Homo sapiens: one gene and its partner. The protein of the gene in region 1 purifies or fractionates together with the protein of each later gene. This does not show direct contact. Each region holds a gene or a part of one and is shown on either strand. Other genes may lie near its edges.

Region 1 (7,028 bases):
GTATGTTCTGTTTCTTGCTATTACTAGACAAGAAAGTGAAAATTGGGACTGAACAAAACATCCCATTTCTGTTTAATAAATATAGCCAGTAATTCTTTGTGCTGTTTTGATTGATACTGGGCTGGGTAGATCTGCTTTGTTGCCAGACTTTTAGCCCTGTGCTGCCTGATAGCCAGTTGTCACGTGTGGCTGTTGAGCCCTTGAATGTGATTAATATAAATTGAGATGTGCTGTAAGTGTAAATACACACTGGATTTCAAAGTACATAAAAGCTAGTATTAGTTTAGTAATGAAGTTGCAAATATTTCAAATTAACCACATTTGAGCTTCAAAAGCTGAGCCACAAGATTAAAAATGAGTAAAATATCATCTGCATTTTGATAAATGTTGCTTAGTGTCATCTGGCATAATACAGTTTTTTGGTTATAGTGGACATTTGTATTTTCTTAGAACCATTAAAATAGTTATGAAAATGTGTTTTAGGATTATCAACTGGAAAACTAAGCTTTATCATTATTGTGTTGTTTTAATTATTTTATGTATTTGGATTTATTAATTCAACTTTGAAAATCTGTTTTTTCCCATGATTCCATGTAGTGGCACCCAATCAGTGTTTATTCAACTACTGAGGTTGTTGTCCTTTGAAAGAATCAAACCTGTGGTGTGGTCATCAGGTGGCAATGATTGTTGCAGTCCAGATAACCAGATTTGAGAGTTTACTTTTCTGTTCGTTGACATGGTTTGGCTCTGTGTCCTCACCCAAATCTCATCTCAAATCGTAATCCCCATGTATCAAGGGAGGGACCTGGTGGGAAGTGATTGAATCATGGGGGCCATTTCCCCCATGTTGTTCTGGTAGTGAGTTCTCATGAGATCTGATAGTTTAAAAGTGTGTGGCAGTTCCCCCTTCTTTCTCTCTCCTGCCACCACGTAAGATGTGCCTTGCTTCCCCTTCATCTTCTGCCATGATTTAAGTTTCCTGAGGCCTCCCAATTATGGAACTGTGGGTCAATTAAACCTCTTTTCTTTATAAATTACCCAGTTTCAGGTAATTCTTTATAACATTGTGAAAATAGACTAATACAATCATCATTAACCTTATGTTATTACAGAATTTTAATAGTTTTTTAAAAGCAATTTCATAATTAGTTAATTTACTTCTCTCAGCAACTTGGTAGAAGTTGAACAAGAGAGAATAAACGCTGCCCTTAAGCTCACATATGTAGTATTACTAGTTGTCTGGTTGTCTATCTTAGGCCAATCCTTATACAAAATTCTTGACTTACATTAGGTCATTTAATCCTGAGAACAACCACCTGTGGTATGAATTTATTATTCCACTTTTACAAGTATGGAGGCTGAGGCTTAGGGATAGGAGGAGTTTTGCTTACATTTACATAGTTTGTAAGTGTTAAAGCTGTGGTTCAAATCCAGGCGTACCTGACTTCAAAGTCCCAATTCTTCTTCACCCCCAGTTGTACTATCAAAGAACATTTTCCTTTGAACCTATTTAGGAAAGAAGAGTTGAAGATAGAATTCAGTTCCATTTGCATATTGATCTTTTAAAATTGTTAACCACAGCATAATCTAACCTTATTTTAATCCCAGTTTAGTAAACAGTGACCTTTTCTAATATACACATGCATTTTTTTCTCCCCATTGTTATATATACACCACATTTTCTTTTTTTTCTCCCTAACTTTTATTTTAGGTTCAGGGGTACATGTGCAGGTTTGTTACATGGGTAAATTGCATGGCTTGGGGATTTGGTACAGATTATCACCCGGGTAATAAGCATAGTGTCTGATAGGTAGTTTTTCTTTTCTTTTTTTTTTTTTTTCTGAGACGGAGTTTCACTTTTGTTGCCAAGGCTGGAGTGCAGTGGCGCGATCTCAGCTCACCTCAACCTTCGCCTCCCAGGTTCAAGCAATTCTCCTGCCTCAGCCTTCCAAGTAGCTGGGATTACAGGCATGCATCATGAAGCCTGGTTAAGTTTTGTATTTTTAGTAGAGACGGGGTTTCTGCATGTTGGCCAGGCTGGTCTCGAACTCCCGACCTCAGGTGTGAGCCATCACGCCCGGTCCCTGATAGGTAGTTTTCAATCCTCATGCTTCTCCCATCCTCTGCCCGCAAGTAGGCCTCAATGTTTATTGTTCCCTTCTTTGTGTCCATGTGTACTCAGTGTTTAGCTCCTACCTATCAACATGTGGTATTAGTTTTCTCTTCCTGCATTAATTCACTTAGGATAATGGCCTCCAGTTCCATCAGTGTTGCTGCAGACTACATGCTCTTGTTCTTTTTTATGGCTGGGTAGTATTCCATGGTGTCTGCATACCACATTTTCTTTATCCAGCCCACCATTGATGGGCATTTAGGTTGATACCGTATCTTTGCTATTGTGAATAGTGCTGCAATTAACATGTGCACACGTGTTTCTTTATGGTAGAATGATTTCTATTCCTTTGTAGAAATAGTCCCATTAATGGGACTGCTGGATTGAATGATAGTTCTAAGTTCTTTGAGAAGTCTCCCAACTGCTTTCCACTGTGACTGAACTAATTTATGTTCCCACCAGCAGTGTATAAGCATTCATTTTTCTTTGCAACCATACCAGCATCTGTTATTTTTTGACTTTTTAATAATAGCCATTCTGATTGATGTGGAATGGTATTTATTTCATTGTGCTTTTGATTTGCATTTCTCTAATAAGCAGTGATGTTGAGCATTTTCTCATATGCTTGTTGGCCACATATACACATAAATCTTTATGTTTGAAGGTGCAGACCCCTTTTGGTCTCAAATAGACCCTTTTGGCCGCTTCGAGTTCAGCTATTAACCTTCAGGTGGTTCAGTGCTTTCCTTACACTTTCCCATATAATATCTCCACTCCCCACAGCATACACAGGCTATTAGAACTAAAGTATGGTCTTTTTTTTTTTTAATCTCTGTGACTTAAAATAGGTTCTGATCAACTCTGACTCCCATATGTTCTCTTGAGTTGGTAAAAGTTGAAAAGTTATCTGCATTGGATAGAGATATTTCAAACACAATACTCACTGCTGCGTCACTACATATCCTAACCCCCATTTTCAGCCTACGGGAGGAAGGAAACATCCTTTCTTAGAAACTGTCAACCTTTCTGATATGAATTTACAGCTGATGACTATTTCTTGTGGGAATTTACTATTCTAGTTTTAAGCCTTTGTATAAAGGTTAAAACTTAGTTCCAGCTTTTTCATATCCTCCTTTGAACCTGTTTTTGAAAAGACTAAATACCAGCCAGAAGAAATATCTTAAAAATACATTACCTTTCAGGTGGTGTAAGTCAGTTTGGACAGAAGGCACACTGAAAAATGCTTAAGTATTATTTGTTCTTTATAATTTCTTGTTTAGATTTTAAGACCTTTATCCTAAAGAATGTCACTCCTTTCTTCTTAGTGTACCTCGGTATGATCAACCACCTCCTGTCACATACCAGCCACAGCAAACTGAAAGAAATCAGTCCCTTCTGGTACCTGCAAATCCATATCATACTGCAGAAATTCCTGACTGGCTTCAGGTTTACGCACGAGCCCCTGTGAAGTAAGTACATTTACAACACAAATTTGTTTGAGGAGTGAGTGAAGGGCTGAATGGAGTCTCTGGGCTGCTCGATCCAAGTAGTGTGCCATATTTTACTCTTAATAATATTCGGCTTCTAAGTAATACGTGACTTGAATAAAGGATGTCATAGTTTATAATGTGTGAAAATCATTAATTAGAAATATTAGTTCTTCAGACATTTATAGAATCTTCATTTCTTTGTGTGCGGGCCTCTGCTATTAGGGATACAAGTAAGAAACTTACATTCTCATAGGAGAAGATTAATTTGTAAATAAGTGATACAGTACTTGTGATAAAAGTAAGGACCTGGGCTTGGCACAGTGGCTCACACCTGTAATCCCAGCACTTCGGGAGGCTGAGGCAGGAGGATCTCTTAAGTCCAGGAGTTCGAGACCAGTCTAGGCAACATAACGAGAGCCCCATTTCCACAGAAAAATTTTAAAAATTAGCCAGGCTTTTTGCATGGTCTGTAGTCCCAAGTACTTGGGAGGCTGAGGTGGGAGGATAGCTTGATCTGAGGAGTTCAAGTTCAGCCTGAGCAACATAGCAGGACTCTGTCTCTATAAAAAATTTAAAAATTAGCAGCATGCTGTGGTGTATGCCTGTGATCTCAGCTACTTGGGAGGCTAAGGTGGGAGGACTGCTTGAGCCCAGGAGTTTGAGGCCGCAGTGAGCTATGCTTGTGCCACTGCACTCCAGCCTGGGTGACAGAGCATGAGAGACCCTGACTGCCCCCCTACTAGTGCCAGAAAAAGGAATGATAGCAGATGGCATTTTCTTTCCTATTTTCCTCTTTTCTTTGTCCCTTGATACCACCTGACCTACAGCTGTATGTTTGTATGCTGATTCTAAATAGTACATAATATCTGTATGCGTTTTTATTTTCCTTAAATCTGGAAGAATATGTGCCTAACTGTTAACCTTAGTATTTCTGGGGGTGGATATGGTTGAGGAGAGTTATTCTTTCTGTTGTATGTTATTTCTACTCTATAGTCATGTTTAATAAGAAATAGCATAATCTTTCCTTTTTGGGGGAAGAGATAGTACTTAAATGGAATTCCTGGTTTCTTACAGAAAGAAACAGATTCCTGAAGATTATAGTCTTTTTGAATTCTGTGGTTCTGTGAGCTAACTATAAAACTCAAGGAAACTAGCAAATAGGTTGTAATTCTTCCAAAATGGGCCAGACTGACAAAAAGGGAGCAAGTACTATACTTCTTTACTGCTTAAAAACTTAAACAAGAGGTCTGGAAGCCTGTTGCTTTCTAGTTGATTCTAATTAATGTTGCTGAAGAGGATGGAAATGGTTAATATTCTATCAACAAAGGGTGAGTGGTTATCTATGAATTAGATAATGAGAATCAATTATCACAACAAAAAGAGACATTTTTGCAAAAAAAATTTGCATGTTTCTTCCTTTTGTTTTTCAGACAATTGAGAATCTGAAATTCTTTAATCCTGAAATTCTTTAATCCTATCTCTCACAGTAATTTACCAACACAATTTTTGCATATACTTCTAAAACTTGATTTAGAAACAGACTGTGTTTTAAATTTGTATTTAATTTTTGTAAAGTTATGTTCCTGTGTCTGCTCACAAAAGTCTATAATGCTTGGTATAACTGTACTCAAGCTGAACTATAGGATAAAATTTTAAAAGTTAGGCCGGGTGCGGCGGCTCATGCCTGTAATCCCAGCCCTTTGGGAGGCTGAGGCGAGTGGATCACAAGGTCGAGAGATCGAGACCATCCTGGCTAACACAGTGAAACTCTGTATCTACTAAAAATACAAAAAATTAGCTGGGTATGGTGGCACGCGCCTGTAGTCCCAGCTACTCGGGAGGCTGAGGCAGGAGAATCATTTGAACCCGGGAGGCGGAGGTTGCAGTGAGCCAAGATTGCGCCATTGCACTCCAGCCTGGGTGACAGAGCGAGACTCCATCTCAAAATAAAATATAATAAAATAAAATTTAATCTTTGACAGCAAAAACATTGTCAAGAACATATTTACTTTCTGTTATTTCTCACACACACACCAAAACACTAGTCCTCAGCAGTGTGTGGCAGGGGTATTTTTTATTCCAGTGGCTTGGCAGTCCTGCAGTGTCACCATTGACCCTGCTCTGGATACAGGTGAAAAAGAGGGAGGAGTGGACACAGTGTTATGGCGGGTGGGTGCAGGGGACTTAGGCTACATGGTGATACCTGGAGCTGAGGATAGCAGCACTGTTGATCTTGAAGTCAGCATGCAGTGTGGACAGGTTATTTTTGGTAGCATTATAGCAACTGGCATTTGTATATATGGCTTATTTATAAGTAGTATTTGAATAGAATACTGCCCTAGGAAAAACAGAGTGAAAGAGATGCTAGAAGCATGGACTACTGGAGTGTTTTACACCCAATTTTCGGAATGATTTACCTGTGTATATACAGTATAAATGACTAAAAGTTAAACTTGTGGAAGCAAATTTCTTGGCTAGTTAAGAAGGAAAGAATGGGAGTTTATACTTTTCAGAAAAAGAAGGAACACTTAGGTGATTATAGGCAGAAGGGTAGTAACTATGTAGAAGCAACAGAGGAAAGAATTTGGAATAGGATTTCCATTCCATGCTTTGCAGTTTTTTCACATCTGTGCCCTTCTTGGAGTGCACTTTCTTCCCCCAGAAGGATTTTCTCTAATCTGATTTTGTTGCTTCTACCCATAATCGTACTCTTGATGCTGAATGCTGATTGGCAAGTCAGAAACTTGGCCAGGCATGGTGGTGCACCTGTAATCCAAGCTACTTGAGAGGCAGAGTCAGGATTGTTAGAGCTTAGGAGTTCTGGGCTGTGATGCACTATGCCAGTCGGATGTCTGTACTCTTTGGCATCAGTATGGTGACCTCCCAGGAGCAGGGACCACCAGGTTGCCTAAGGAGGGGCGAACTGGCCCAGGTTGGAAAGGGAGCAGGTTAATACTACTGTGCCGATCAGTAGTGGCATTGTGCTTGTGATTAGCCACTGCACTTCAGCCTGGGAGACATAGGAGATCTTCATCTCTTAAAAAAAAAAAAAAAAAAAAAAAAACTGACAAAATTGTTTGAAGATTTTTTCTTCCTTTAGACAAAACTTGAATACTTATACAGAATGATATTCGTGTCTTAAAAATAAGTATAATATTTACCATCTTATTTTTGTTCTTTGTTTTCCTTGCTAGAAAGTACACAGATGATAGATTAGTTTAACATTGTTGTAGTTCACCTGGTATAAATGGTAACCATCTTGACTTAGTAGACATTGCTGAATTGCCTCTTAGCTAACTCTGGGAGATTAAGATTTTTTGTTAGGAATTATGAATTTGTTTCCAAGGAGCACATAAAATCTTAAGTTACAAGAATGGTGGATGTTCTAAGAAATACCTTATAACTGTTTCTTCATGGAGGCTCAT
Region 2 (7,028 bases), on another chromosome or scaffold:
CGCCGCGCGCGCACGTGGCCTTCCGGCCTGACTGCCCAGTGCCCAGCAGGACCAACTCCTTCAACAGCCACCAGCCGCGGCCCGGTCCGCCTGGCAAGGCCGAGCCCTCCCTGCCCGCCCCCAACACCGTGACGGCTGTCACGGCCGCGCACATCTTGCACCCGGTGAAGAGCGTGCGTGTGCTGAGGCCGGAGCCGCAGACGGCTGTGGGGCCCTCGCACCCCGCCTGGGTGCCCGCGCCTGCCCCGGCCCCCGCCCCCGCCCCCGCCCCGGCTGCGGAGGGCTTGGACGCCAAGGAGGAGCATGCCCTGGCGCTGGGCGGCGCAGGCGCCTTCCCGCTGGACGTGGAGTACGGAGGCCCAGACCGGAGGTGCCCGCCTCCGCCCTACCCGAAGCACCTGCTGCTGCGCAGCAAGTCGGAGCAGTACGACCTGGACAGCCTGTGCGCAGGCATGGAGCAGAGCCTCCGTGCGGGCCCCAACGAGCCCGAGGGCGGCGACAAGAGCCGCAAAAGCGCCAAGGGGGACAAAGGCGGAAAGGATAAAAAGCAGATTCAGACCTCTCCCGTTCCCGTCCGCAAAAACAGCAGAGACGAAGAGAAGAGAGAGTCACGCATCAAGAGCTACTCGCCATACGCCTTTAAGTTCTTCATGGAGCAGCACGTGGAGAATGTCATCAAAACCTACCAGCAGAAGGTTAACCGGAGGCTGCAGCTGGAGCAAGAAATGGCCAAAGTAATTTCACACTTCATTTTTACTATTTGTTCCCGGCTCATCCCTCTACTGGCAATAGGAAGCACGCACAATCCCTTTTCTGTTTCGACTGTATACCCCTTATCATCAAAACGGCTAATGGGCGACAGTCTGGTTCTGGGGCCAACAACTTGGAGAAGTTGCAAATGGTGTGACCTCCCTTTCGCCTTTCCCCTTGACTCTTCTGAAGAATCAGAGATAGCTGTGCATAATGTAGCCAGCGTAATGTAGGTAATCTACAATTTACATTGTAGGTAAATTAGCAAATTAAGTTTTAGGGTATGTCCTCGCTTAACAAAATTCATCATGGATTAATAATAGAACATTTGAATGAGTAGAAACAAAGTTTAAGGTTTTGTAAATTGAGATTGTGGGATTTTGGAAGAAAAATGTATCTAGTAGTGATTCCATTTATTCTTTTAAGTGTTTAGTTAGTAACTAATGATTTAAATATACCTTAGTTGACACTGAAGTGCTGAAGAAGGTAATTATTGATGAAACTATTTAAATTAAAATGTAACAGATTTAAATCACACAAAGCCAATAATTCCAAAGCCTGAAAACCAGATTTGTGTTCTTTTCAGTGTCCCGTATTCACTGATTTTTTTACAGATATACTTTTCATTTGTGTTTTTTTTATTTTTATTTTTTATTTTTTAATTTATTTTTAGACGGAGTCTTGCTCTGTCACCCAGGCTGGAGCGCAATGGCGCGATCTTGGCTCGCTGCAACCTCTGCCTCCTGGGTTCAAGCGATTCTCCTGCCTCAGCTTCCCGAGTAGTTGGGGTTACAGGTGCCTACCACCACGCCTGGCCATTTTTTTGTGTTTTTAGTAGAGACGGGGGTTTCGCCATGTTGGTCAGACTGGTCTCGAACTCTTGACCTCAGGTGATCTGCCCACCTCGGCCTCCCCAAGTGCTGGAATTACACGTGTGAGCCACCACACCCAGCCGTTTATTTTTTATTTATACATAGTATTTGTAGATTTGTGGGGAACATGTGATATTTTGTTACATGCATAGGATATGTAATGATCAAGTCAAGGTATTTAGAGTATCCATTGCCTGGTGTATTTATCATTTCTGTGTTGGAAGCATTTCAAGACCTCTCTTCTAGCTATTTTGAAATATTGAATACATTTTTACTAACCATAGTCATACTAGTTAGAGTTTGTTCCTTCTATCCAGCTGTATGTTTGCACCAATTAACTTCTCATCTCCCCTCAACACACACACACCCTTTCCCACCTCTGGTAACTATCATTCTACTCTCTACCTCTATGAGATCAATTATTTTAGCTCCCACATATCAGTAACAGTGTGTGGTGTTCTAACCGAACTTCTGTTCCTGGCTTATTTCACTTAACATAATGACCTCCAGTTCCATTCATGTTGCTCCAAATGACAGGATTTCATTCTTTTTTATGGCTGAATAGTATCCCATGGTGTACACAGACCACATTTTCTTTATCTGTTCATCAGTTGATGGACACTTCAGTTGATTCCATGTTTTTACTGTTGTGAATAGTGCTGCAATAAACATGGGGTGCAGGTATCCCTTTGATATACTGATTTCCTTTCCTTTAGATAAATACCCAATAATGGGTTTGGTAGATTGTATGGTAGTTCTATTTTTAGTTTCTTTTTTTTCCTTTTTGATAATAGTCGTTCTAACTGGGGAGAGATTATATCTCATTGTGGTTTTCATTTGCATTTCCCTGATGGTTAATGAGCATCTTTCCATGCACCTCTTAGCCATTTGTGTATCTTCTTTTGACAAGTGTCTATTCAGGTCATTAGCTCACTTTTTTTTCTTTTTGAGACAGAGTTTCGCTCTTGTTGCCCAGGCTGGAGTGCAATGGCACGATCTCAGCTCACCACAACCTCCGCCTCCCGGGTTCAAGTGATTCTCCTGCCTCAGCCTACCGAGCAGCTGGGATTACAGGCATGCACCACCACGCCCAGCTAGTTTTATGTTTTTGTAGAGACAGGGTTTCACCATGTTGTTCAGGCTGGTCTCAAACTTCCGACCTCAGATGATCCACCTGTCTCAGCCTCCCAGGGTGCTGGGATTACAGGTGTGAGCCACCGCGCCTGGCCTTATTTTATTTATTTATTTTTTAATTAAGACGGAGTCTTGCTCTATTGCCCAGGCTGGAGTGCAGTGGTGAAATCTCGGCTCACTGCAACCTCTGCCTTCTGGATTCAAGCTATTCTCCTGCCTCAGCCTCCTGAGAGCTGGGACTACAGGTGTGCGACACCATGCTCAGCTAATTTTTGTATGTTTAGTAGAGACGGGGTTTCACCATGTTAGTCAGGCTGGTCTCAAACTCCTGACCTCAAGTAATCCGCCTGCCTCAGCCTCCCAAAGTGCTGGGATTACAGGCGTGAGCCACCATATCTGGCCTTTTGGCTTACTTTTTAATGGGATTATTTGATATTTTTTTTGCTGTTGAGTTGAGTTCCTTGTATATTCTGAATAATAGTCTTTTGTCAGATGAATAGTTTGTGAATATTTTCTCCTGTTCAACACAGGTATCCTCTTTACTCTGTTGTTTCCTTTGCTCTGCAGAAGCTTTTTAGCTTAATATAGTCCCATTTGTCTACTTTGGGGTTTTTTTGCCTGTGCTTTTGAGATTTTAGCCATAAAAATCTTTGCTCAAACCAATGTCCTGGAGTATATTTTCATAGCCTCTGGTCTTATTTCTAGGTCTTTAATCTGTTTTAAGTTGACATTCCTATATGGTGAGAGATTGGGGTCTAGTTTCATTCTTCTGCATATGGATATCTAGTTTTCCCAGCATGTCTCTTTTTCAGTGTACATTCTTGGCACCGTTGTCAAAAATCAGGTGGCTGTAAATACGTGGACTTATTTCTGGGTTCTCTATTCTGTTCCATTGGTCTATGTGTCTGTTTTTATACCAATACCATGCAGTTTCAGTTACTCTAGGCTTGTAACATATTTTGAAGTCAGGTAACAATTTTGTTCTTTTTGCCTAGGATTGCTTTGAGTATTTGGGCTCCCTGTGAATTTTAGTATTGTTTTTTCTAGTAATGTGAAAAATATCATTGGTATTTTGATAGGGATTGCATTTAATTGGTAGATTGATTTGGGTAGTATGGTCATTTTAACAATATTAAATCTTTCTGTCGGTGAACATGGGATCTCTTTTCATTTGTTTGTGTCCTCTTTAGTTTCTTTCTTCAGTGTTTTGTAGTTTTCTTTGTAGAGCTCTTTCACTTTTTGGTTAAATTTACTCCTAGATTTTTTTTATAGCTGTTGTAAATGGCATTCATTATTGGTGTACAGAAATCCAGATATCCATATGCAGAAGAATGAAACTAGACCCTATCTCTCACCATATACAAGTCTATCTAATGTATGCTACTGATTTTTGTATGCTGATTGTTGACTTTTCTTCCTGCTTTCCCATTTTCCCTGAGTTACTGAAAGATTAGATGGCTCTTGGAGTTCTAGGAATGCTGTGGTCCCCTTTTCCACAGATTTGTGTTAATAGAAGTTTCCCTTAGTTTTTAGAGCCAAAAGTATCCTAGAGAAAGAACTTTCTTTTTTATCTTAACTTTTCATTCCATATTCATGTCTATATATGGATATAAAAAAACAAAACTGGCCGGGCACAGTGGCTCAAGCCTGTAATCCCTGCACTTTGGGAGGCCAAGGTGGGCAGATCACCTGAGGTCAGGAGTTCAAGACCAGCCTGGCCAACATGATGAAACGCTGTTTCTACTAAAAATACAAAAATTAGCCAGGTGTCATGGTGGCGGGCACATGTAGTCCCAGCTACTCGGGAGGCTGAGACAGCAGAATCGCTGGAACCCAGGAGGCGGAGGCTGCAGTGAGCTGAGATTGTGCCACTGCACTCCAGCCTAGGCGACAGAGCGAGACTCTGTAGTATATGAGACCCATTCTTCTCTGTTCTCCTTTCTGTAAAATGAGCTAGGTTCCTCTCAGTTCCAGGGCATCCCCATCCCAGTCATTTGTTATCATGGGACTTCTCTAATGTGATTCTTCCTCCTTCCTTTTCCTTCTACACAGGCTGGACTCTGTGAAGCTGAGCAGGAGCAGATGCGGAAGATCCTCTACCAGAAAGAGTCTAATTACAACAGGTTAAAGAGGGCCAAGATGGACAAGTCTATGTTTGTCAAGATCAAAACCCTGGGGATCGGTGCCTTTGGAGAAGTGTGCCTTGCTTGTAAGGTGGACACTCACGCCCTGTACGCCATGAAGACCCTAAGGAAAAAGGATGTCCTGAACCGGAATCAGGTGGCCCACGTCAAGGCCGAGAGGGACATCCTGGCCGAGGCAGACAATGAGTGGGTGGTCAAACTCTACTACTCCTTCCAAGACAAAGACAGCCTGTACTTTGTGATGGACTACATCCCTGGTGGGGACATGATGAGCCTGCTGATCCGGATGGAGGTCTTCCCTGAGCACCTGGCCCGGTTCTACATCGCAGAGCTGACTTTGGCCATTGAGAGTGTCCACAAGATGGGCTTCATCCACCGAGACATCAAGCCTGATAACATTTTGATAGATCTGGATGGTCACATTAAACTCACAGATTTCGGCCTCTGCACTGGGTTCAGGTGGACTCACAATTCCAAATATTACCAGAAAGGTATTGTCTGAAGTGTGCCACATGCACTTTCTATGTGTAGATGTCACTAACCCCATTGCAAGCAACTAAATTTCCCATCCTAGTGGCTCCTAATCATTTTGAAATTTTTATCTGTCACTCCATTATTTTATAAATTGGTGTGACATCCTTCCCTTCCAAAAGGAATAGTGTGATATGCATTTTTTTTTAAGGTAGTGGATTTCAGGTTTACTTTTTTTTTTTTTTTTTTTTGAGACAGAGTTTCGCTCTTGTTGCCCAGGCTGGAGTGCAATGGCGTGATCTCGGCTCACTGCAACCTCTGCCTCCTGGGTTCAAGTGATTCTCCTGCCTCCAGCCTCCCGAGTAGCCGGGATTACAGTCACGCACCACCACCTCTGGCTAATTTTGTATTTTTAGTAGAGACGGGGTTTCTCCGTGTTGGTCAGGCTGGTCTCAAACTCCCAACCTCAGGTGATCCGCCTGCCTCCGCCTCCCAAAGTGCTGGGATTACAGGTGTGAGCCACCGTGCCTGGCCTACTATATTTTTAAGACAGTAGGCTACAAGGTGTCACGGGGCCTTTGTGGGGAACCATCACCTGCCTCATTAAAGCAAGCCTTAAAAAATAAAAGATTTGGCTGGGCATGGTGGCTCACGCCTGTAATCCTAGCACTTTGAAAGCCCAAGGTGGGCGGATCACCTGGGGTCAGGAGTTCGAGACCAGCCTGACCAACGTGGAGAAACCCCGTCTCTACTAAAAATAACAAAATTAGCCGGGCGTGGTGATGCATGCCAGTAATCCCAGCTACTGGGAGGCTGAGGCATGAGAATCGCTTGAACCCGGGAAGCAGAGGTTGCGGTGAGCTGAGATCGCGCCATTGCGCCCCAGCCTGGGCAACAAGAGCGAAACTCTGTCTCAAATAAAATAAAATAAATAAAAGAGTCACAGCCTCCCAAGGAGCCCTCTCTTATAGCCAACCTGCATCTATGTAGTGTATCATTGAACTCCATTTCCTATAGTTCTGCCATTTGGAAAAGCCAAAAACAGCTGATTATTATCTTCTTTATGGCTGAGATTCTTGAAGTAGTTATTTTAATATCATCACTTAGTCTTTTTTCTCTAACTCAAAACTAACTCTAAATCATTTAATTCATTCTCATTTTCTGGCATTGAAGTAACCTTTGTTCATGTTGTTTAAATCCTCCTAAGTTTTCCATGCTCATCTTAAAACATGTGTCAGGCAGTTGTTACCTTTTGATTATGGCCTAAGCGCTAGGAGTGCTGTCCCCGCAGTTCTTCCAGCCTCTCCTGCCTGCAGTGCCTTCCTGCCAGCTCAGCACGGTGCATGGTGTCCTGTGATTCTTCACCGTCATTTCTACCTTGGTGCTAGCGCCAACCTCACCACGTGTGTCTCCAAACTAGGAACAGCAGGCTGCCCCTATGGAGCAGCTCAGCGGGGATTCTCTGTCCTGATATGTCAGGAGCTGATTGGAATGACTTTGCTGTTTTAAGCTGTGGATCTGTTGAGTTATTGAAGAGTGAAAATTCACTTTATATTTTGTTCTTTTCTTTCACTATCCCTGATTCCTGGGTGAAGGGAGCCATGTCAGACAGGACAGCATGGAGCCCAGCGACCTCTGGGATGATGTGTCTAACTGT

Evidence for each region.
Region 2: the proteins of SAV1 (region 1) and LATS2 purify together in Homo sapiens (affinity purification with western blotting; 4 studies listed by BioGRID, with this or other methods). This does not show direct contact.

The regions. Positions count from the first base shown.
Region 1 is NC_000014.9:50,637,304-50,644,331, reverse strand, and holds part of SAV1 (protein salvador homolog 1), read left to right. Parts: intron 1-3,438; coding exon 3,439-3,582; intron 3,583-7,028. UniProt on the Homo sapiens protein: Regulator of STK3/MST2 and STK4/MST1 in the Hippo signaling pathway which plays a pivotal role in organ size control and tumor suppression by restricting proliferation and promoting apoptosis.
Region 2 is NC_000013.11:20,981,587-20,988,614, reverse strand, and holds part of LATS2 (serine/threonine-protein kinase LATS2), read left to right. Parts: coding exon 1-734; intron 735-4,808; coding exon 4,809-5,391; intron 5,392-6,966; coding exon 6,967-7,028. UniProt on the Homo sapiens protein: Negative regulator of YAP1 in the Hippo signaling pathway that plays a pivotal role in organ size control and tumor suppression by restricting proliferation and promoting apoptosis.